3 separate regions of the Homo sapiens genome follow, and regions 1 and 2 are each linked to region 3. A link means that fine-mapping ties the variant in region 3 to the expression of a gene that starts in the linked region. Tissue or cell type: whole blood. Region 3 holds a variant in brackets; each other region holds the start of a gene. All regions are shown on one strand. Distances are from middle to middle.

The links. PIP is the estimated chance that this variant, and not a neighbour inherited with it, causes the effect.
Region 1: FBXW7 starts here. The variant in region 3 is fine-mapped to the expression of FBXW7 in whole blood (TOPMed, PIP above 0.99). The same link has a PIP of 0.9 or more in blood mononuclear cells.
Region 2: TMEM154 starts here. The variant in region 3 is fine-mapped to the expression of TMEM154 in whole blood (TOPMed, PIP above 0.99). The same link has a PIP of 0.9 or more in T cells and blood mononuclear cells.

What each region holds. Positions count from the first base shown.
Region 1 is chr4:152,533,013-152,541,116 of GRCh38, reverse strand. FBXW7 (F-box and WD repeat domain containing 7) reads left to right here and starts at 5,025. Exons shown (of 14, transcript NM_001349798.2): 1 at 5,025-5,990; 2 at 6,084-6,176. MIR4453HG (MIR4453 host gene) reads right to left here and starts at 4,853. Exons shown (of 1, transcript NR_033797.2): 1 at 1,854-4,853. It overlaps MIR4453 (microRNA 4453), which reads right to left and starts at 4,689; the gene lies at 4,601-4,689. RefSeq lists enhancers at 4,730-5,089, 4,795-5,330, 6,580-6,679 and a silencer at 5,200-5,989.
Region 2 is chr4:152,676,260-152,684,363 of GRCh38, reverse strand. TMEM154 (transmembrane protein 154) reads left to right here and starts at 4,367. Exons shown (of 7, transcript NM_152680.3): 1 at 4,367-4,494. The coding sequence starts at 4,431. It overlaps LOC105377495 (a long non-coding RNA gene), which reads right to left and starts at 4,279. Exons shown (of 4, transcript XR_939359.3): 1 at 4,060-4,279; 2 at 3,691-3,777; 3 at 3,224-3,289; 4 at 2,702-3,001. RefSeq lists enhancers at 4,284-4,593, 3,904-4,733, 7,801-7,890.
Region 3 is chr4:152,638,555-152,646,658 of GRCh38, reverse strand. It overlaps TMEM154 (transmembrane protein 154), which reads left to right. Exons shown (of 7, transcript NM_152680.3): 4 at 2,217-2,244; 5 at 3,486-3,571; 6 at 5,674-5,731. Among named protein-coding and RNA genes, the nearest start is that of TMEM154, 37 kb to the left of the region's middle. RefSeq lists enhancers at 2,171-2,230, 3,376-3,445. The variant C/T (reference allele first, on the strand shown) is at 3,157.

The DNA of each region.
Region 1 (8,104 bases), 110 kb after region 3:
GCAGAGGAGGGCCCAGCAAGGACCTGGAGTCCCCGCGCTGGGTTGCAAACAGGCGCAGCTGGGGCTGCCTGCACACTCCATGCAGCAGGCGGCAGCCCTACCCTCCCAGGTGCAGGACCAGGGCATCTCCGCACTCTGCACCCTCTGGGGGACGGGAAGGCCCCCTTGCCCTTGCAGGCCCTGGGTGTCTGTTCCCACTGCTTGGCCTCTCCCTGCTCCTAGCACCTGCTCTGATCTCAGAATGGGGTTGGGGTCAAGCCTGGGCACTGTCACAGCCCGGCTGGGTATGTGCAGGCTTGCGGCAGTACTGACATGCTAGCCCACTGCTGCTTCCGCCCCCTCTAGATGTTGGGCGCTGACAAGCATGGGAGGGAGGCAAGGGTTGGCAGGGCTGAGGGTAGCCCTGTGCTGGCCCCACAGGCGCCCCTCTGCAGAAATAGCCTGGGTGCCATGAAAAGTGGTAGGAGGCAGACAGGCTCCAGTGTGGAAAGGAGCGGGTTCCCAGTGAAGTCCCACCTTTAGGCTGGGGAAGGCCTGAAGCCTGGGGATTGGACTGCCCATCCTGCACACTAGAGGGGGAACTTATGGTGCTTTTTCCTAGGCCTGCCCAAGGACCAATCAGCATGCACTTCCTCCCCTGAGGCCCGGGGCTCAGTCAGAACTGAGCAGGCGATGGATGACCAGCTGCAGAGAGGAGCTACCTTCTTTGCCGCTAGCTGAATACTTGTTAGGATGACCAGGTGCAGAGAGTAGCTATCCTCCCTGCTGAGAACTGAACACTTGTTGGGACAACCTTCCTGCATAGAGGAGCTCTCCTCTCTGCTGAGAGCTGAAAACTCATCAGGACAACCTGCCTAGCAGAAAGGAGCTGCCCTCCCTGCTAGCAGCTGAACACTCACTGGGACACCCTGGCTGCAGAAAGGAGCTATCCACTGTGGGTCTCCTCTCAGCTGTTCCATTACTCAATAACATCTTGCTCACCCTCCACTTGTCTGTGTACCTCATTCTTCCTGGTCACGGGACAAGAACTTGGGACCTGCCAGATGGCGAGGCTAAACGAGATATAACACAAATGGGGCTGAGACATCCCCATTGCTTGCCACGTTGCGGGTGAAGAGGAGGGAAGGGCTGTGGCCTTTTGGGGAGCCCAGACCTGGGAGCTCCCCAAGCCAACACTGTGACTCCCTCTTTGGGTCCCTGCAGTTCCTGGCGTCTCCAAGCTTCCGGGTGCCAATGTGTTCCCTGGTGCCAGCTGTGGAAGCTGCTTGCAGTATGCCTGGTCCAGCCACAGCCTTGCAGAGAGCTGGTGCATCTGGAGCTGCCCGCCCCACTGCAGCAGCTGGTGTGTCTGACTGCGCAGTAGCCAGACCTCACGCTCGCTCACACATGCCTTGCCACTCCACGCCGTACTTGCCCTTGGCAGGTGTGGGATCCAGGCCGGTAGCATAAGCTGAGCACAGCCTGCCAGGCCAAGTAGGTGGAATGAGCCCAGTGGGCCTGAGCAAGACTTGTGCAAAGGCGCCACAGGCTACAGAGGTTTCTGGCCAGAAAAGCGACACCCTAAACATCCCATAACATTACTTTACCTGTTCAAATGTGGACTATGAAAGGATATTGAAAAGTTGGGCATCTCAGAGACTTAGACATTGAAAAGATACTAACGCGCCACAAAAATGTAAATCCAAATAGCTAGTTGTATACAAGAAGGTCCTCAACAGCATCAGTAATCAGAGAAATGACAGTTAAAACCACAATGATATATTACCATACACCCACCAGACTGGCAAAACCAAAAAGACCAATAATGTCAAGTGTTGTGAAGGTGTGGAGCAATGGGACTCATATATACCTAGTGTGACTGTGTAACCCTCTAGAAAAGAACTTGGCATTATTTATTCAAGTTTATGATACATATTACACTCCCAGGTATATGTTATACAGAAACTGACGTAGATGTGATGGAATACATATATGAAGAATGTTCACATTAGCATTTATAACAATCCTAAACTGGAAACAACCCAGATGTCCATCAGCAATAGAATGGCTAAACATATTGTCACATATTGTTATAATGGGACACTGTAATATGCAGCAATGAAAATGCACAAATTACAGCTATAGGAACAACCTGAACAACATATGAATTAAAAACAATGTTGAGCAAAAGCAGCAAGAACAACAGATTACATATTATATTGTTCCAGTTACATAAAGTTCAAAAGAAAGAGTGAGACTAAACAATATATTGTTTAGGGATGCATGCTTGCGACAAAGCGACAAAGAAAAGCAGGGAAATGATTATCACAAATGTTAGAATAATGACTACACTTAGGAGGGAGGGAAAGAGTTGTGTTCGGGAAGGTCATGGCAGGGAGGGGAACTTCTGAGTTGCTGGAAATATTCCATTTCTTGACCTGGTTGATTGGTTACATGGTGGTTTCCTTTATAATCACTTATACTATATAATTGCTTTATGTATTTAAACTATATTTCACAATAAAAATGTTAAAATTAATATAGATAGTATTTCTGGAAAGCAAAATTTTGCCAGATAATTTAGCTTACACAATCTTTGACAGTAAAAGCCACTGATATGGAATAACGAAACACTGATTAGTTTCTTGTAAGAGCTCACTTTCAAGTGTAGAGGTCAAAAACCTTATAAGAGTCTCCGTTTTTCTATATTTTAACACAGTATTTAGATCCTTATCTTAAATTGATGAACCAGGGAAGTAACTATTAGCTAAAACTTCAGATTTTTTGGAATTTTTAATTAACTAGCTGTTTTCTCCTCTGGATTAATAAGCAATACAAGGAACTAAAGAGATGCAGACCAAGTTGGAAATGTATGAACTTCCTTCTCTCCAGTCTCCAGTTCCAGCTGTTTCCTCCTGTTATCAAGCTGGGTGCTGAGGTGGGTATCTAGCCCAGTAAGCTTAGTGTGCTGTTATTAAATACTTTCTAAGTAAGTGGCTCAGGCTCTCCTGAGTGCCCTTCTGTTCCTCAGCACTGAGGTTGTAAGGTGGAGCCACTGACAATGAAAACAGAAGATCACGCTGCTGAAAAACCCTATGTGGTACACACTTAACTGGAGGTGTTCTCTGCTGGGCTGCAGAACTCTGATGTTTGCACTCTTTTCCTTCAAAGCCTACAAAGGTTAAACTCTCTGAGGTGTTTAGCTTCACAAAATCCCCTAAATCTGTGTGTTTTACTCCTTTAATTTCCACCATTCCCCTGTTGTAAGATAGGAAGAGGGGGAAAAACAAAAAATATTTATTTTGTAGCCATGTGAGACCATCACTTGTTGGTCTGATTACCTGTGAGTCTTATTTGGAAGGCTGTAGCAGGGGATTGGTCACGTAAAGACAGAAAAATCCAGGGTAATTTAAGCAGGATATTTAACCTGGCTCTTGGAACTTCAGGTCAAGGGCAGTAGGGTCAGGTGCTAGTCTGTGAGTCTCTCCTTGGTTTTGCCACATCCTCCTTTGCCCCTCTCACCACCTTTCCCGCAGCATTTTAATGAACACGAGCCCTTGGATTTACCCAGTTAAAAGTTTCCTTAGTTTACTGTTTGCAGATGGTAGTGGCAGTAGTGGGAGAAACCCAGAGCTTCCCACATTTGTCTATAATACACTTGCTCCTACCTTACCCCCTCCTCCAGGTGGAAAGACTTGTAAAATCCATTACTACTGCTTCCCAAGGAGGTAGAGTGTACTAGGGTCCAGGGACAGAATTGTGGAATCTGCTTTCATCATTGCTGCTGCTTTAATCTTTTTCTCATACTATTCACTGAAGACAGATTTCTGAGGATTCTGGTCCTTTTATCTTAAATTTGTTTTCCTAGAGAACTACACTTTAAACTTCATGAGTTTCTACTTAACTTTCCTTTCCAGGATAACATCTGTAGGAAAAGCTGCATAATAGTAATAACACTTATTTTAGAAAGAAAATAACCTTTGAGTCAGACCTGAAACAGGCCAACATTTCTTGATGACAACGTACACTGATGAACCAAGACCAGAAGCTCTCGAAAGCTCCAAACCGTAAGAAAGAACCATTCGTAAAAGTGAGGGACTATTAAATTCTTCCCCTGACAGTCAAAAATCCTTCAGCAATCTCCCAGAGGATGGCTCCCTTCCAATCCTCCCTTCCCGCCGCCCTAACAATCTGCGCGAGGATGGGTCCCTTCCCTTGCTCGGCATTTCGTCTCCTTTTCCACTAAAGACTCAGGTTGTGACTCTGTACTCAAGCCGCACCCCTGTTTCCTTTCATGGCTAGGGGGAGGGGAGGAATGTATTACAACTCATTTTTACAATGCACTGCAGTTTACAAAGCGCTTGCACTTCCACCATATCCTCTGAGCTTCACGAGTGCCACGTGAGAGAGGCATTCATTCATTCATTCATTCATCAAACATTTGCTCGGCCCGACCACACGTTATCCAACGCTGGGTCTCACCCCACGCCACGGGAAGGGTGGGGCGCTCTCTCCCTGGAGCAGGTGCAGATCAGGCTGTAGGGTAACTCCTCGATCAGTCCGGCTTTTCGAGGGTCTGTTTGGGGCCAAATGCCTCACCTTCGGGTGGTGCGCGCAGCTGCCTGAAGACGCGGCCTGGGCCTCCTCCTTCCTCCCAAAGGAGCAGTCCCCACCTGCCCCGAAGGAAACCGCTACAGACCAAGCTCTCCAGGCCGCCCTCGGGTCAGGGGTAAGATCGGGCGGCAGCTTAGGCTCGACTCGGCTCCTCCCCTTCCTCTCTTCAGTTCTGACGCGGCCGTAGAGGCGGCAGCGGCGGTGGCGGCTGCGAGTCCCGCGGCCCGAGGCGCACCCACCCGCTCGCCGATCCCCACTTCCTCTTCCCTTGGAGCGTCATCAGAGCGCGCCAGAGGCGCCCAGGGCGGGGTGGCTGGAAGGGGGAAAAAGGCCAGCGGAGGAAGCCTCAGAGCGGAAAGAAGAGGGAGGGGGAAGAGAGCGGTTGCTAGGTGACTTGCGTCATCGGCAGGCGCCGCTCTCCTCCCGCCCCTCTCTCTGGAGTGAGGCGAGAGCCCCGCACAGAGCGAGGGAGACAGCGAGCTGAGCTCCGGGCGCTGCCGCTGCCGCTGCCGCCGCCGCCGCCGCTGAGACTGAGAGCGAAGGAGCATCCGAGAGATCCAGTCCCCCTGCACTGGCCGCCGCCGAGACCTTCGCTCTCACCTGGGCCAGCGGGAGCCGCGGCCGCACTCCTTTCCCCCCCTCACCTTCCCGGCCGGCAGCGGCGGCTGCACACGCCGGAGCCGGAGCCAGAGCCGGAGCCCGAGCCTGAGCCGGAGCCGGCGGCTTGGGGGGCAGGGAGGCGGCTACCACGGGCCGGGAGTGGGTAGCTGCTCCGCGGTGAGAGAACGCTGAGGAGGCGCCAGAGCTTCTGCCTCGTCCCGTGGGGCGTGGGGCGAGACCCCCAAGGTGTAGGGAGGGGGGTCCCAGCCGCAGCGACACATGCGGGAGCCGGGAGCGGGGGCGGCGCCGAGCGGAGCCGGCCGGGTCCCTCGCCTTGCCGCCGACTCGGCCACCCGCCCGGGGCCGTAGCATCTTGCCCCGGAGTGTATGAACCGGGGCCCCAACCAAGCTCGGCAACCACCCCCCGGCCGGGGGGGCGGGGACCCCGATGTGAAGCGGCGGCTGGGGCGGCGGAGAGAACAGGACCGACGCCGCCGTCCTTTCCTCACCTTCCCCCTCCCCTCAGCCCCCTCCGGGGGTCTTCTCCCTTGGCCAGTCGCCGGCCCCCCGGCTCCTTGGCTGGACTCCGGGAGGAGTTCCTAGAGCCCCCCTCCCCCGCCCCAGTCCCGAGGGCGGCGGGGCCGGGGGGGACCCGGGGGGCCGGCCGCAGCCTCCACCCAGAGGAAACTTTACAAAAACAAAATCCGGAGTCTCCCAAACCTGACTGTCCCGGGAGAAGTGGCCCTGGACGGGCAGAAGCCGCAGCCTGAAAAGACCCAGGAAGAGGAAAAGAGGAGGTAAGCGGGGCCGCCGCCTCCCCTCCCCTGGCAGCGCGGAAGAGACCCGGGTTGCCGCCTGGTTTAGCGACACGAGCACCGCTTCTTCCTCAGTACCGCGCCGGAGCCTTCCGCAGCTGCCGCTTCAGTCCGAAGGAGGAAGGGAACCAACCCACTTTCTCGGCGCCGCGGCTCTTTTCTAAAAGTGTGAGTGGCCCCGGGAGAGGGAATTGAGGGGGAGAAAGTGGGAGGATGCCGGCGCTTCCTCCTGGAGTTTTGCTGATGTTCTCCAGTAGTGTTGGGAGTCTATCAATGAGGGAGTCTAGCTTTATTCACGGAGGGGGGAAGGTGTTAGGGAGGCCTGTATTTTGTAACTTTTTAGCTCTTTGTACGAGTAATGCAAGTATGCAGGTTTCTGTCGGAGGAGTCTTTTCTCCAAAGTGAATACTCGCACCTTTCTGGCCAGCAGTTGGCAAAGGGAAATTGAGGAAGCCAGAGCATATGTGCGCACAGAGGCCATCTGTATCTGTAACCTTTTCCTGGTACTGTGGGTGTGTGCGGTGTACTTTTTGTTTCGGGGGTACTCTCATATAGGTTCCCGAATGAGAACTACTTAACCTGTGGACCCCTGAAAGTAAAATTCCTTTTTTAAAAAACAACAACAAACCTGTTTTGAGAGAGGTTCATTTCAGTACCTATTGGTACAGGAGTTAACCTTCTCAGTTACTGGGTCCAATTTCATGTGTGTCAGGAGGACACTGTAACAGATGTCAGTTACTCAGGAACTTGAGTTGTTAGGAATCACAACTTACTTGGGGAAGAGCATTTATCACATTAATCATTTTATAAAAGTTGTGATTTTTTCCCTTTCACCCCCCCCTTTTTTTTTTTAGAGTAACAAATTACAGCACTTTTTTATTTGGTTTGAGGCTTTGCTTTTTTGAATTATCTTTATTTCTGTATCAATTTAGGATACATCTTTGATATTTAAGTCAGGAATGATTTTTTCCTTCCATTATTTTAAAGCTGAAGTTTATAAAACCTTTGACTTGTATTTTAGGTATCTTGTCAGAGTACCAAATTAAAGGTTTATGAAAGTAATTAATATTTCATATACAGACCTTAAGGGTTAAACATAGAGCAGAATTTTATGTAAGAAGACATAGACAGTAGTATACTGAGAATTGTGGTCCGTCTAGACAACTGTGGGCTCGTTCTGTCTGAAGCCACTGCTGAGAGATACTTTGTGGGAATGAATGTAAGCCTGGGGTTATCTCTCTTTTCGAAGTTCTCCATTCAGGATCTTGATTAGATTAATTTAAAACTTTCTCAAACTTAACAATGTTTGGTCCTTTTTTTTAAAGTAATGAGTTCTGCAAGTTTATTAGCCTGTGTATTATGTGACAGTTCATTTACATATTCCATACCTGTGTCCCTAAACTTTCAGGACACAGTCAGAGTTTGTGTTTCAAGAATTATCAGGACAAGCCTCAGTTCATCTTTTCTTAATTTTATGGACTTTCATTATTTCTACCATCAGTTTCTCCAACTGTTGTCTTAGAATAATGTCTTTCATTTGACCACTTTTCCCTCCTCTGGAACTTCTCCCACTGAATTGTTTTTCTTTAGTTGCCTTGTTATGCTTTGGTAAGGAACTTTAAATTCTGTCCTTTAAATGTGTACTGACATGAAAATACTGAATAGTGGATGTAATGTTAGAATCAGAGTCACGTATTCTGTTTTTCACTAAGATATTGCAAAGAGAAATGTAGTCATTTTCTAAAATACTGTACCCAAAATACAGTAGAAGCTGTATTTTGGGAAGGAGGGGAGGACAAACTAAGAAACAAACTATAGTTTGAATGTAGGTTGCACTCTGTCAAAGTTGCTTACTAACTTTAGGACCTACTTTTATTGCTTATGGATTGGTTAAAAATTACGGTATTTTTTTTTTTTTTGAGACAGAGTCTTGCTCTGTCACCCAGGCTGGAGTGCAATGGAGCGATCTTGGCTCACTGCAACCTCCGCCTCCCAGGTTCAAGCGATTCTCATGCCTCAGCCTCCCAAATAGCTGGGACTACAGGCATGTGCTACCACGCCTGGCTAATTTTTTTTGTATTTTTAGTAGAGATGGG
Region 2 (8,104 bases), 38 kb before region 3:
TAGTTCTGGCATAGGGTCCAGGACTCTGAATTTTAACAAGCTCCCCTGAATAATTCTAACATAGGTGGCCCCCTCCAGTGCACTTAAAAAAATACTGCTGTAAAGGGATTTTCCCCCCATTTACTCACTTCTCTGTTCTCTGTCCTAAATGCTGAGGATAGACTGGAGAGCAAGACAGAGAATGCCATTGCTCTCAGAGGGCAATTAGAGGAGGACTGTGGATGTTCAGCAGTGAGCTGCTGCTCTGTCTCTTAGATACGCCCCAGCACCCTCTAGCCCAGAGCGCTGCACTGTGTCCCACGTGTCAACTGCCACTTTAGCTCCTAATCACAATCCTTTACAGTTTCATGTTGTGGTGACCAGGCCATCTACCTAGGCCCTGGAAGACCCTGTCATGGAAGCCCCTAGGATTATCCAAACCTTGCAACAGTTTCTCTGAAGAGTATTGGCAGCCAGGATGCAGAGACAGAGACCCCCAAGGGTGGAGATAGGCTGGTCAAGATGAGCCCGGCTGTGCAGGCTCCAGCTGCCCCCACTTCACGCGCAGTGAGATGGCTGTCAGCCCCTCTCCTGGCTGTGGCTTCTCTGCACACGCTAAATGTCAGCCTAATCCTTCTGCCCCAGCCTCTGCCCTGCCCGGCTACCTCTCTGGGCATTCCTTCAGAACCTGGGACTTCAATCTGCCTCCTCCCTGCACCTTCCTAGCTGGCTTCAGAGTGATACACAGGCCCCACCTGATGTTACTATTATCTTGTTTGAGGGCCAGCCCACAGCCAACCAAACACCCAGGAACCATCCACTGTCACTAGCAGGCATTTAGACAGAGAAAGAAGCTCCAGAACATTTGTATGTGAGTGTCGATGTGAGAGCGTGTGTGTGTGAGCACGTGTGCACATTTCTGAGTATGTGAGTGTGCCTGTGGGTGTGTGTTGGGAGACTGGATGTACAAATGGACAGTGGCCAAATAATATATGCAAAAACAGAACACTGGCTCCCAGCTTGCAGCAACCAACCCCCAGAAACCAATTCACTATCTTCAGTAGCAAGTCTAGGAAGCCAGCCTGCTAGAAATCAAACTTGTAGGAGGTCAGAGCACCTTCTGACAGATTCCCTCATTTTTATCTCCTCTTCTGATCTAGCAGCAGCAAAATATGCACCTCCTCACCAATCACTAGAACTTGCTGCTGGTTCCCCATGCCAGCAGCCTCCCTTCAGGCCATACCTGAGCCTTCCTTTTGTTTTTTTTCTGAAACGACTCTTGCTCTGTCGCCCAGGCTGGACTGCAATGGTGGGATCTCGGCTCACTGCAACCTCCACCTCTCAGGTACAAGTGATTCTTCTGCCTCAGCCTTCCGAGTAGCTGGGATTACAGGTACCCCGCATCATGCCCGGCTAATTTTTGTATTTTTGTAGAGATGGGGTTTTACTATATTGGCCAGGCTGGTCTTGAACTCCTGACCTCAGGTGATCCGCCCACCTTGTCCTCCCAAAGTGCTGGGATTACAGGTATGAGCCACTGCACCCGGCCCTGAGCCTTCCTTTTATCGACTGTAAAGTTATCTCATTCCTTGGCCTGCCTTTGGGTCTGTGCCAAAATGCAGCGATGGTGGCTGACTCTCTTGCTATGGCAAGCTCTGAATTAATATCCATTGCTTGGTTTCATTTGCTTGTGCTCATTTAGTCTTCATTTATTTCCACCATGTGCATGAATGTGTGTGTGAGAGACAGCTGTGTGTGTATCTGAGTGCATGTGCACATCTGTGTGTATTGGGAATGGCAGGATCGGAGTGTGAAGAGGAACGCGGAGAAGGCTGTCTGCACCCACTGGAAGATCCTATCATTTATCTGGATTTGTTCCCTTGGAGTCCCTCTTCTTTTATGGCCCATGGAGTGGTGGTGGGGAGGGGGCGGGGGGAAGGGAGGGAGGATAGGATGAGAGTCACTTCTGTAGCACAGACAGTTGATTGTAAAAGTCACACTCCTTTGTGTAAAGTAATAAAGAGTCCCTAGACATGGTTCCCAGTGTCCCTTCCTGCCCTTCTGAACATGATGAAGCACCATACTTCTTTCCTGCTTTCAGACAGCCAATGGCAGGCTCCAAAGTGGCATTACCCCTGCCTGTGTGCCACTCACTCTGAGGTTCCCCTGTGCCCCACATCTGGGACTGAGGCCCTGACTTCCTGCCACCAGTGCATCGGGATTTAATCTGAGGCTGGGTGGCTATTTGCCTAAATTAATGGTTGCTAAAATTAAAACAGAGGTAAATAGCCCTTTACCTACCACACAGCCTCCCTGGGATTTTAACTGCAGCAAAGAGATCATTGAGGTGCTACCATTTTCTGATCAATCATGGTAATTTTCTTCCCCCTAAGATCAGCTTAATCATGCTAAGGGTCTTAGAGAGCACAGGGGTCAAAAGAAAATTACATGGTTGGGCAGGATTTCTCTGCAGCTCCAGTTTATTTTGTACCTCACTCTGATTTAGTGTTGCACTGCTCAGAAGCAATGCATAGTGCACTTGTTGAAACAGTAATGAACTGTTTGGCCATGTCATGGGGCTCAGCAGAGGTCCACAGAATAAGACAGTCTGTGGTCCAATCCACAGACACCTGACTGCAAAAGCTTCCACAGGGAGCTGAAGTTTAAGATGAAAGAAACGAAGGCTGACAACCTTGCCCTTGACAAACATTTGCCTCCAGCCTGGGATTCAACAATGTTTTAATAACATTTAATAATATTTTAATAGGGCATAAATGGTAAAATGGAGAGAACTCCCAAGCCCTGGGCCTGCTTTCTTGCACGTGTGTGTCACAGCTGCAGAAACACGTGCTTGTACAGGAATAATTGCCACCCCAACTCAGTACCAGCAGGTCTTGGAGCCCGTGATCTATTCACATGCTCAGCAAGTGTTTAATTAATAGTTCTTTCTCTGTTGTTTTCAAATCAATCACCCAGTTTTGAGCACGTCTATTTTCTCCTGCTGTTTGTTCTGTATTGTCACCTGTGGTGCAAAAAGCATATTTTATCAAGAATTGACTTAATTGCCAGTTTAAAACATTAAAGTGCATACTGTAAATCCATTAACAAACTGATCCTTACATGAATCACCAACCTATTTCTTGTGAATAATAACTGAGATAAACAGTGACTAATGACATTGAAAAGCAGCAATGCATTAAAGAAAAATTAACAGCTATGTCAGGGGCTAAGGAATTCCAGTCACCTCATACGTTTGCACCAACCAGATCACTGAAGACAAACGACGGGAAGTCATGACTCAGATGGTGATCTGCAGGGAAAGGTTTAGAGATGAGATGTGTCTGATGCCTCAACACTACCCCTCTCTCCATCTGTCTGTCTCTCTTGGCACCACGATTATGAAACTGCATTCTGAATGCTTAGGCCCTAAACCTAAACCAAGGGAAGGACCTCCAATAGAACACCCAACACACACTAATCTCCACTGTATACTAGACACAACCTTTCTGTATTGTTTCGATTGGATAGGATTTCTACCATTATTCTATTTCGTTTCTGTCCTGTTTTGTTTGTTGTCTGAGAACTTGATTGTCAAGTAAGAAGGAAGGAAGGTGAGATGCAGATTCACCCCTACCTCCACCCTCAGAGCATATTCTCCTTTGGAAATGGACCTTGAAAAGATCATTTCTCTCTGGGGAAGCAGAACATAACCTTAAGGTGTGGGTGTGGCATCCACCTCCATCTGGCGTGGGCCTTGGTGGGAGGAGGGCATTCCAGAGTGGAGAAAGGAGAATGGACCTGGCGGAGAGAAGTGGTCTGGCAGTTTTCTGATGATGCAGTTGTCCCTGCTGTCTGGGCCTGCGCTATCCAACACAGCAGCCACTAGCCACTTGGAGTTATTAAAATTTTATAAAAATTCAATAAAATTTAAATTCCATCAGCACTAGCCTCAGTTCAAATGCTCAGTGGCCAATGTGGCTGATACTGTATCAGACGGCGCAGACTTGGAACATTTCCATCAGGGCAGAAAGTTCTACAGGACAGCTTCTTCCTAGGGTCTAGGCAGCCCCGGAGCCTCACCTGGGGGATAAGCAAAATCACAGAGTGAGAATGCGTGTGGTCCAGGACCCCTCCCAGTCCCAGATACCGAACGACATCTGAGCAAGGGACTCTGTTGCCCCGGGGACGGTTTCAAAAGCTGGAGGCCGGGACTCCAAAGGGCTGGAGAGGCGTGATAATAGAACCAGTGCTTCAACAGCAACTTCTCTTTTGCAATCCTTGCTGGTCTGACAGGCTCCTGCAGAATTACATCACTTCCTAAAAAACAGGCACACACCTCTCCTTCAAGTCAGCACCGACCCAAACAAGCAGGAAACAGGAAATGTTCACGTTTCAGAGAGGCTGCAGCCCGGCGCAGCATCCTGAGCGCGCCTCTGCCGAGGCGAGCGGACATGCAGGCTCCCCGCGCAGCCCTAGTCTTCGCCCTGGTGATCGCGCTCGTTCCCGTCGGCCGGGGTAAGCCGCCTCCACTTCCTACTCCTGGGAAGGAGGATCGCAAAAGCTGGTAGGGTGCCCGAGGCTACAGAACTCTGCCGGGGAGGGTGACACCCAGAAAATCTAATCCTTTCTGTGAAAGAAGTGGAGAAAATTAGAACTCCTTTTTTTGGGGGGTGGGATGGAGAGGGGACTTCGCTTTCGCTGCAGCTGTCTAAACTGGCTACAGCTCTCACTTCATTTAACCCTCTTTCAGTCTTTGTCTTCCAGGAAGTGTGCGTCCCTGTAATTTACCAGCTTTAATGGGCATATTAAGAAAACCATAAACTTTTTGGCAGTTTATGTAAAAAAAAACAAAAGCTTCAATTGGCTGAAACAGAGACATGATTAATTTGCTTTTTATGGTGTGGGCTGAGAAGTCTGCTGATTCCAAAATCTCCTGGAAAAACTGGGGTGTGAAAATTTACTACTAGAAAGCATACTAAAGAAACGACATAAACTTAAAAAAAAAAAAAGGAAACGGGAAATTATCCGAAGAGCTACCAAAGAGCTATGTGTTAGAGGGTAGCCCTCTAACACATCAAGTAAGGTCTTTCATCTACTTTTATTGCACCTTGTTACTTTTACAGATTTTTTTTTTGCATTGATTGTTACTAATGAAGATTTGTTTGAAAAAGTAATATGATTGGAACCAATCAAAGGTATTGGAAAAAACAATATTGAATCTCATTATTATGGGCTAAAAGCAACAACTGATTTACACCCTTGCCAGTTGCTACAACAAGCACAAGCACCTTCAGCTGCCTCTCTTGTTGACTTGCCTTTGGGCAAATACACTGGCTGCCCATTGTTTCTGTCAATGAACACCGACTGCTTCTAGTGTAGGGCAGTATTTACCAAGCAAAAGGAAAGTTCTCAAGCTACAGTTCTTTAGATAGAATGAGGGACATCAGCCCCAACCTAACAGATGTGACAACTTCCTGGAGGTCAGCAGCCAGCACCCAGCCACCCCACTCCATCAATTTCTCTTCCCCTGGGTGTTCTCCATGTGGTCCCCCAGGCATCTGAGGTAGAAAACAAAGTGGAAGGCAAATCATTCCAGCTGAAAAGATGTCTGGTTAAATTGAGTTTAGTGTTCAGAGTGGGTTTGGAAGTTGATGTGTTGTTTTATGCCCAGTGTTTTGGAGCTGGAAGGGAACTTGAAGATGATGCAGCTCAAACCATATTGGGCACACAGGTGAAGAAACAGAGGTGGAAGAAGGGAGATGTCTGGGTCTTGCTGCTAGTCAGCTCTTCTGGCTTCTACTCCAGAGTTCTTTGAGCTCCTCCACCCCCCACCACCACTGCCCCCCTCCCCCCACCGCCGCCCCGGAACCAATCACTGTCTCTGCCAAGAGCTCTGGAACCTTTCGTAGTAGGACATCAGGGAAGAAAAGCCTAGCCATCCTCCTTCCACCTCTTCTATTGCACAACACTGCCACAGGTGCCTCAAACACTCCCTTAATACTAATTCATCTTGCCTGAACTTTTTTTTTAGCTTCTAAAAAATGATTGAGTCCTAGTGTCTGCAATTCAGGAGATGCAAAAAGAGAATCTGAAGAGACTTGGTTAAAGTTGCCTTTCTGACACCTGAATCTGATCGTGCACATCTTCCCCCTTAAGGACCCCTCATTTATGCCCCTTCACTTGTTCCTCATTTTTGCCCCTTAGACTCTCACTGCAACCTCCTTCCCAGTGGCACCTCCTTCCAGTTGTCGTCCCCCTCCGTGGCTCTTGCCTATAATGAATACATTCTTTTTCCTACCTAGCAAATTCTTGTATCACCTTAAAAGTATCAAACTAAATGTGATCTCCTCCTTGATGTCTCCTTTCTCTGCCCCTTCCCTGGAGCTCTACTCGTACCTGCTGCTGTGCCCCGATAGACCTAAACTTCTGCTAATCACTTTGAACCATAATTGTGTCCATGCCTCCCAACTGGCTGTGAACAGCTCCAGGGAAAATCCTCTGTAGTTCACCTTTGACTTTCCAAAATCCTGTAAGGGCTCAGCATAAATGAGAAAATAATTGTTGATAAATATGAAAATCATCCCTAGAATGGATATGAGGCTGATTACAAAAAAAACTGATAGCTCCTGAAAACAGGTAGTGTTGGAATGTAAAGAGAAGTCAAAGATGAAAAGTTGCATTTCAGTAGAGTGCAGGGATTACCTAAATAATCCAACATGCTAATTGGGCCCTGCTGGGATTCCCAATGTCTGAAAAATGCCCACTTGCAAAAAGCTGTTGAATAAAAGCTATGACTTTGAGATGATTCATCATGGAAAAGGTGATTTTAAATTAAAGATTTTTAAAATTAATTAATGTACACTACTTTTAGCTAATAGTGCCTAAGGCTTCAGGATATGAGTTACTTTCTAGGTGTCACAGGTATATTTCCTTGAATTCTTCAAAAAATACCTGGGGATGTTTGTTAGATGAATCCAACCTACTGAAGGGCCTGACACTGTTTGTGAGTATACTCTGAGATGTATCTCAAATTAAGCCTTTATTAACAACGAGCAGGCAACATGAGATAATATCTGCAGTTGCATGAGACCAGCACTGTTACCTCTGAGTCAGCGACCTCTTCTCTTTTTAGAGATAGATAGCCTGACATAGAATTGAGTTCTACCCCAAGAGAAATAATTCACTTGGAAGTCACCAGGAGAGAAATAAGAAAGCAGCTTTTCTGGGACTATAATGGAATGGGTGAGCATAGTTAAAGGAAAGCTTGGGCCTAGGTGCCTTGGCCAGTGTAGGATCCTAAGAAAGTTCAAACTCAAGGAGATGTTCTGCTCATGGAGTAAAGTGGGGCAGGGGTGTCCCCGTCTCTGTTCTTTATGCCCTGTCAGTGTCAGCTTAATACTATCAGAAAACCAAAAGCAATTTCCTAAATACCAAAAGCATGGGATTTGTTAGTTGCTAAAAGCAGAATTGTTGCAGAAGGGAGAGCTGAAGGCCATGAGGCAGAAACAAGGATGCTGTGACTGTTTTGGTGGCCAAACAGAGAGGAATGGGAGATTTTCTGGGCTGGTTCAGAAGAATAAGAATTATATAAGTATTGGATGAATCTTGACAAGGAGAGAAAGAATAGTAGAAAATACTAGCTATGTAAGTAAGGCTACACATTCTGACACTGTGGTATCTCATATCTTATTTTAATGAACACGGCTGACATCTGCTGTTTCCTGGGACAGTCCCAATTTCAAGTATTAATAACAATAGTAGCTAACATATATAGAACTCATTATAGGTCAGGCACTATTCTAAATGCTACATTCACTAACTCATTTAATTCTCAGAACAACCTTATAAGGTGGGCACTATTATCCCTGTTTTTACATTTGAGAAAACTGAGGCACAGAGAGGCTAAGTGACTTGCCCAAGGTCACACAGCTAATTAGTGAATCTAAGTAAGATTCTGCCTCAGGAGTCCATTCTCTAACCATACTCCATACTACCTCTGGGTTTCCAAGCTCTGCCAGGCTACTCGTTTAGTTTTGGGTTTAGAAAACTGTGGTTGTTGAACCTTTCCAGCTGTAGGTGCAGCACAGAACTCTTGGCTAGGCTTTGCGGTGGCTGCATGTCAATT
Region 3 (8,104 bases):
GTTGGAGGAGATGAAATGGAAGGATTGTTGGAGGGAAAATGGAATAGGGGTTTGAGATGGAGCTTTGTAAGAGCTGCATTTGCCTCCTGGTTGCAAAGGGAATAGGTGGCTATTCATAAATATATATAGGCCAGGTGGAGTGGAGCGGGCAGGGCCTGATTGCTGAGGACAAGTAATTGGTCTTCCTCCTGGTTTAATGCTCTGCTCTTTGTGTGCCCTCCCAGATGTTTTTCTGTTGCCATGGTGGCTGGAGCAGAGGTAATAGCCATGGAGCAGGGAAGATGAGGCCGTAGAAAGCTTTTTGCTCTGTTTTCAAACTGATTACAGGAGCTTCACATTTGGTGCATCTGGAGCACTTTTGTGATGGCTTTTAAAAGTTTTCCTTCATCTGCTTGCAGGCTAGCTTTTGCTCACCCTGAAGCCTGTGGGGAACCCGGATTATAAAGATATATCCATGCCCACAACGGTGGGGCCATGCAGCCACTTGCTGTCTGGGAAAATAGTCAGGGGTTTATTCAGCAGGGGAAAAGGGAGAGGGAGGAGGAGGGAGTGACAAAACAGGAGGAGCTTTACGGGTCACCTGCAGGGATGTTCAATTGTGTAGGAGCTTTATTTATATTAAAATTCCTTAAGGAAATAGCCTTTATATTTTAGATAGAAAGTGTGGGTTTGTGGTGTCTGTGTGTGTGTGTGTGTGTGTGTGTGTGTGTGTGTGTGTGTGTGTATTCTCCTTTCCCCCATCTAAGTTTCTGAGGAGTCAGGCATCTGCAGGAAGCTTTAGATGCCTACTGGAGGGCAGGAGGACATAGCCTGCAGCTCCTGGAAGGCAAGCGGTGATGGCATGAAACTTACATCTGTGCCCAGCTTTCCTGGATTAGCAATGCCATTCAAGCTTGCCAACCCACAGGAAATTACAGCAGCTCACTGCTGCCAGGAACTCAGTTCCAGGTGTCTGCTGGTTGTGTTCCTTCACTGAGGACCTCCATTTCTCCAGGACAGACAATAGGAGGCCTTTAAGTGCCAAGGATCAGAAACCTCTGACTATTTGGTGGGCCCCTACAAAGTGGTTTGCTTTTCAATAGGTTTCACATGATGAATGGTGCAGCAGGCCTATGCTATCCACTCAACATCATTGCCTCATTTCTCTGGATGTGTTGGTTCTCCTGCCAAATGAAACAGGGCTTCAGCTGGGACATCAGGCTCCAATTCTCACCACTTGTTCATTTGGAGTCTGATGTGCATTACAGCCATTTTGTAAACAGTTACCTGACTCTCACCTCAACCAACAGGAACTAAAAACAGGCTTGTTGGAAGTTTCACTATGCTAAGTCTGAAATATTGGACATGAATTGAACCCCAGTGCTGGACAATTGAGGTTAACACCTAATCATTTATTCCACTGATATTGACTAGGCATTTACAAGGTACTGTGGTAGCTGGCTCAGAGCTGAGGGGATACCACGATAAATAAGACAGACACGATCCCTGCCCCTTTGTACTTTGTCTAGTGAGAGAGACAGACAGAAAAAAAAAAATCAAACAGACGGGTTGACCAATGAGAAATTGTGGCCAATATTATGAAAGATGCAAGCAAGGTGCTGAGCTGGGGAGCAACAGGAAAGATGGGCCCTTCTTTAAATAGAGTAGGTGGGGAAGGCCTCCCCGAGGAAAGAGTATTTAAGCTGGGACCCTGAAGTTGTGAGGGATCCAGCCATGCCAAGAGCAGGGGTAAAAGGAAAATTCCAAGGGGAGCCCTTGATGGAAGATCCCACATCCTCCACCAGGAGTGAGGCACAGTGTCACAGTGTTCAGCATGGTGTATCACAGGAGATGAAGCAGCAGCCTTTAGATCTGGGACATTTTACTGAAGGAGGCCAAGGAGCAAGCCCTCTTGTTTCACCCTCCCTTGCCTTTCCTTACCAATGTTTTCCTCTTCTTGTGGATGTAAAAAATAAAGACGGATGAACATCTGGTCTGAAGTGAGCGTTCTCAGCAGACCATCCACATCTAAAAGAAAGCAGATTTCACACGGATTAGGACCTCGTTTTAATATGGCAATCCACACTTCTTTGACTCTAAGTTAATGATCGCTCCTTTAAAAATGTTACTTAATGTCATTTTGCTCTCTTTGTAAAGGAGACTTCAGCTGTTGTTGAAATTAAAAGTTGTTACAGAAGAACAAAGCTAACATGACCTTTATGTTCATTTCCTTTTAGATGAACTGGGAAGTGAAAACGTGAAAGTGTAAGTTTTCCCTGCTGCTTCTGATCCACCTGGGGTGTGAACAGCAACTGTTAAGGTGGACAGCTGCCTTTTCAGGTGTTTTTGTTCTGACATCTTGCGGGACTCTCCTGCTTCCCAGGCGGGGTTGGAGATCCTTGGCAGCCTGAGGGAGGATGTGCTGGCATCCCCAAACCCTATCCAGCGTGTGAGTGTGATCTGGGCAAAGACAGCTTGGCATCTGTTTTATTTCATTGTCCTACATTCAGAAAAGAATCCTGACTGCTACCAATTTCAAGTGCATAGCAGTTAAATATTCTATCCCTAGCTGTATTTCAAGGACATTGGTTCATTTACTCTGATTAGAAATTTTATCACCAGGAAAGATACTTGAGCTGGTATTTAGCAGGGAGCCCTGGTCGAAGCAGAAGTTCACACAGCAAGAACCCCCAGGGATGGGAGAGAGAGAGGAGGAGAAGGGAAGAGTGGGAGGAGCAGGAGGAAGGGAGAGGAGGGAGGGAAGGAGGGGTGGGAGAGAGAAAAACAAGCCTCCACTCAGAAGCATGTTCTGGGGTGATGCCATATCCTCCCCATCTTCCAAGCAGCCTCCTGGTTTAGAAACTTTATCGCTTCCTCTACGCAGTGTACCGCCTACGCTGCTTTCAGAGCTGGTGGTCCATCCTTCCCCAACCCCATCTCCACTAACCACGGACTCTGTCCCCTGACTGTGCACTTTGAGCTTCTGCAAGTGAGGGCGGTGAATTTCTGAAAGCAACTGCTCCATTTCTCCAAGAGAGAAAGGCCTGGGAATTGAAGGGACAGGTGATAACTGTAGCCTGTTGACAGTGGCCTCTTGACCTGGGGCACTGATCAAAAAACCCCAAGGAACAGGAAGTGAAATTAAGCAAGGCTAAAATGCTTCATATGGCAACTCCC[C/T]GGAAGGGCCTCACCCTGGGAGCCTTGCAGACTTGACTTTGCACCTTCAGGGGAGCAGTCAGCCTCCTGGGTTCCCTTTTTTGTCCACTTGTTGGGCCTGTGGGCACCCCACTTTTGGACCTGTGATAAATGTATGTTTGTTTGTGTGGTAGCCTTTCTTCCTATTAAAGTTTGGTAGTTTGGAATAGGGCAAGCCCCCAGGCTTCCCTAGAGCATAAGGCACTGAATCAAGTTCATCTTCCTCAGGATCAGCATTCTAGTCTCTTTCCAAATGAAATTAGGCATCTTTCACATTTCTTTCTAACAAGTCTTTTGCTCTCTATTTCTAGCCCTATTTTTGAGGAAGATACACCCTCTGTTATGGAAATTGAAATGGAAGAGCTTGATAAATGGATGAACAGCATGAATAGAAATGGTATGTGGTAACCTAAAGTTGTTTTTTTTCTTTCCTCTCTAGTAACAGAAGGCTGCAACAGCTTTATAAATATCTCAATAAATCCTGGAGTGAGACAGAAGAACCCAATCCCACATTAGATCTGGTACATGCAGATAATAAACCTGGTCTGACAATACTTAAATATTCAGCTTAATTGTTGCCACTTGTTTTTATTTCTGTACAAGTTGTTGAAATGGTCTTTTTGAAGCAGAAAATGGTATTTTATTCAAGAAAGGAAATCTCTGAGGCCAAATGATCTGGAAAAAGTTAGCATCTGGCATTACCTTATACATTACAGAATTTAAAGATCTACAATTTTAAACTGACTATGGATATAAAACTTTATCAAATGTAGTATCCATAGATCTGTGCTGTTCAACGTAATAGATAATCACCAAATGTGGCTATTTAAATTTAAATTAATTAAAATTAAAATTAAAAAATATTGAGTGTTTAGTAGCCAATGGCTACTAAGTGGACAGTGTAATGTAGAATATTTCTATCACTTTAGAATGCTCTATTGGACATTGCTCATGTAGATGGTGATATACATACCCCATATAACAATTTCCAATTGATATCTGGCAGTAATGGAAGTATATGTTCCTTACTTTTTAGTAAATCAATAATGGGACTTTAAAATGATGACAGCTGCTTTTTCTTTTTCAAATTCCCTTTAAAAATTAATTATTTTTACTACTTAGATTAAATGAATAAAACCCAGCATTATCATGTCATTTGTATTTTTTACCATTTATCTTAAAAAAATACCCTAGGGTCTGTCAAATTCAACACTCTACAGTAGAGTTAGAAAATTCAGAGACTGGTTATAAGAACTATTACTACCAGGCCAGGCACGGTGGCTCACGCCTATAATCCCAGCACTTTTGGAGGCCGAGGCGGGTGGATAACCTGAGGTCAGGAGTTCGAAACCAGCCTGGCCAACATGGTGAAACACCATCTCTACTGAAAATACAAAATTAGCTGGGTGTGGCACATGTCTGTACTCCCAGCTACTAGGGAGGCTGAGGCAGGAGAATAGCTTGAACCCAGGAGGCGGAGGTTGCAGTGAGCCGAGATTGTGCCACTGCACTCCAGCCTGGGTGACAGAGCGAGACTCCATCTCAACAAAAAAAAAAAAAAAAAAAAAAAAAAAAAAAAAAGAATTATTGCTACCAGAGGCTTATCAAGGTGTGATTTCAAAAAAGAGCCACTCAGCTAACTTGTACAATTTCTAACAGTTTTTCATATTGAGGAAAGAAGGACTCTGTAAAGCCATTCTATTTGAGGATGGGGCGGGTCATTGAGATAGTCCTTCAGGAGTCTCGTTTTGTTGTTTTTCAGTTGCTAAAAGTAATATGCATACATAGTAGAATTTGGAAAATGCAAAAAAAAAAAAAAAAAAGGTAGAAGAAAAAAATTCACCACAGAAAGGCAATCTCTTCTTGCTATGTTGTTGTATTACGTTTTGTGCCAGAGATTTTGTGAAATATAAAATCATGATTCTGTCATACTCACTAAAACCAGAAAACTGGAAAAGGCATTTCTATTTGACAACTAAAGCTGAGTTATTTTGACACATAGGTGATAGAATCAAAGAATTTTTTTGCCCTTAAAAATAACGAGTGGTGTAATAGAAAAGAACTCATGACCATAGGAAGATCAGCTGTTTTCCCACTTTACCCAATTCTTTCCTACCGTGCAATCTGATGGAAATCATTCTGCAGACACGTTGGAACCTCAGGCGAAGCCATCTTATTCCACTGTCTATCCTGAGACATGCAGATTCTAGCTTTTGGAGCACTGGGGTGCTGCAGGGACAGAATAACCAAGCAGTGATGAATTGTGTCCTTTCCAGTGTCAGAGGCATGTTGAAGTTTTGCATCTGTGTTATTAGTGCTTTTTCCATTTCAAGAGCCTTGACATCATTAATCTTTTCATCACTATCACTCCTTGGTGAGGCCATTTTTGTGCAAGTAACCACGCAGATCAGAGAACTATGGTATTTAACTGTATCAGGTTTGTGGATAGAAAATACGATTTCAGTAACTAACAATGAGTTTGCTTTTATTCTGTCCTAGCCGACTTTGAATGTTTACCTACCTTGAAGGAAGAGAAGGAATCAAATCACAACCCAAGGTACTTCTCATTTCTACCACAGATTACATGTATATGGCGGGGGGCGGGGGGATTGGGAACCAGGGTGGAACACTTTTTGCTTACCTCCTCCGTGCCTATAATTCGTATGAGATCATTTACGCGGCTGGATATGTGCATAGTGTGGAGAAGAGGAAGTGTGTTACAGAAAATAGAAGGCCACAAAGTAAATATCCTAGGACTCTTTATCTTTAGAAATAAATGAGTATTGACATTTTCTTGCCCTTCTAAAGAGACACTGTTGCTTCAGCTTCTGTTTTAGTCATAAAGCTTTCCAATTATGACAAACTGTAGGTTTGTTTACCTTGGATAAATAGATGTTTGGTAAGGAAAACAGATGGAGGCGACAGTCTTAAAGTGGGTAACTGTAAACTAGAGTGAGAAAATAAATGGGAATTTTTAAAAAATGTTCCATTTTACCACTAGGTGGCTCTGGTTGATAGAAAAATTTTAGTGCTTTGGGGTTTGGGTGTATAGTTTAGCATTCCACAATCTCATTTTAAATTATATTATCTTTTGTGAGGATAGAAATGACCACATTTGGGGTGTTTTGATTAGAGAACTGTTTTGTCAGGACATGGGAAGTGTTCTAAGGAAAAAGGTTGGATGGTTCAGAAGGTTGGGGACTGGCTCTGCAGAGCTCTGCTGTGACCTTGGAGGTACTGAGTTGTTGGCAGCAAACACTCATGGACACCCGGAGAGAAGAAAACTTGAGCCTATGCCTGAGATATCACACTTCTGTTGGAATAAATGGAATAAACCTTCAGGCAGGATAAATCCTCTCCCTCCATGTTCACCAGAAGTCTGGTGCCAGTCAGTCACTTGTCACCAGGCAACCCCTGAAGCCTGAGCATCGCGAGGGAATACTGATTATTAGGCAATGGTTGGGGGCAGTCAGATGTTTATCTTCGGACCCTTTTCCTGCGTCTCCCCCCTAAACCTCACTTAAGAATTCACCATCCCAAATCTCTCCTCACATCACACCACCACAGTCTTACTCAGACAAACCTCAGCTCTGATGCCAAAGTCTATACCTATTGTAGATTTAGGTCAATATCACCACCCTAGGCATTTTCATGTTAAGATTATTGCCAGTTCAGGAAGGATTCTATCCTATTTAAAAGAGATTCCAGGTCATGCTTGGTGGCGCTTGCCTGTAGTCCTAGTTACTTGAGAGGCTGATGTGAGAGGATTGCTTGAGCCCAGGATTTCAGGATTGTAGTGAGCTATGATTGTACCACTGCATTCCAGCCTGGGCAACAAGCAAGAGCAAGACCCTGTCTCTAAAAGAAATGGGGAGAGAGAGAGGGAGAGAGAGGGGGAGAGAGAGAGAGAGAGAGATTGATTAACAAGCAGGTGGAAGAAAACAACAATGCCAGGGGGAATATTACAAAGGAATATTTTCCCCATGTTTTGATCTTACCTGGAAATATGTAACTATATATGTCTGGTATAGGGCTCAGATCACTACTAAAACTCCATAAATATCTTAAGTATCTTATTACTCTATCACTGATGAGCAACCTCAATGATGCTAAAAACTACCCTCAGTGGTTTTTACATTCCTGCCTTTTGCTCTTTGAAATTGTTGGCAACATGGAAGAAGCTTAACATTACAGAATTGTATGGCAGTGAAATCTTCTTAAAAATCAGATTTTTGGCCAGGCAATGTGGCTCATGCCTGTAATTCCAACACTTTGGGAGGCTGAGGCAGGCAGATCACCTGAGGCCAGGAGTTCGAGACCAGCCTGGCCCACATGGTAAAACTCCATCTCTACTAAAAATACAAAAATTAGCCAGGCGTTGTGGCGGGCACCTGTAATCCCAGCTACTTGGGAGGCTGAAGCAGGAGAATCCCTTCAACTGGGAAGGCGGAGATTGCAGTGAGCACTGATCACACCATTGCACTCCAGCCTAGGCAACAAGAGTGAAAGAAATTCTGTTTCAAAAAAAAAAAGTCAGATTTTTGAAATAATGAGAAAATGAGCTAGAGCCTTCACATAGTTAAATGATTGTTTTAAAAGGGAAGGTCTACATTCCACTGTGGGTCCAGAGCTGTGTGGCATTCACAGGATGGCTGTCAGGCCTTCACTTTATGCCCTCTCGTAATGCCAGCACCAGCATTCGAGAACCAAGAATGGCAAGTCCCAGATCTTTGTACCACTAGGCACTTTCTGATTACTTCAAAGGTTATTATGATATTGCAAAGTTAATTTTTTATTCATTAAAAAATCTAAGAAAAGTACATTGGATTTAGAACAAAGCCCAGAACAAAGTAAGTTCTCAATAAGCACTGGTTATTGCTAGTATAATTATTAGGAAGTTAGGACTGATGTACAGAAACTCACTGCCTTT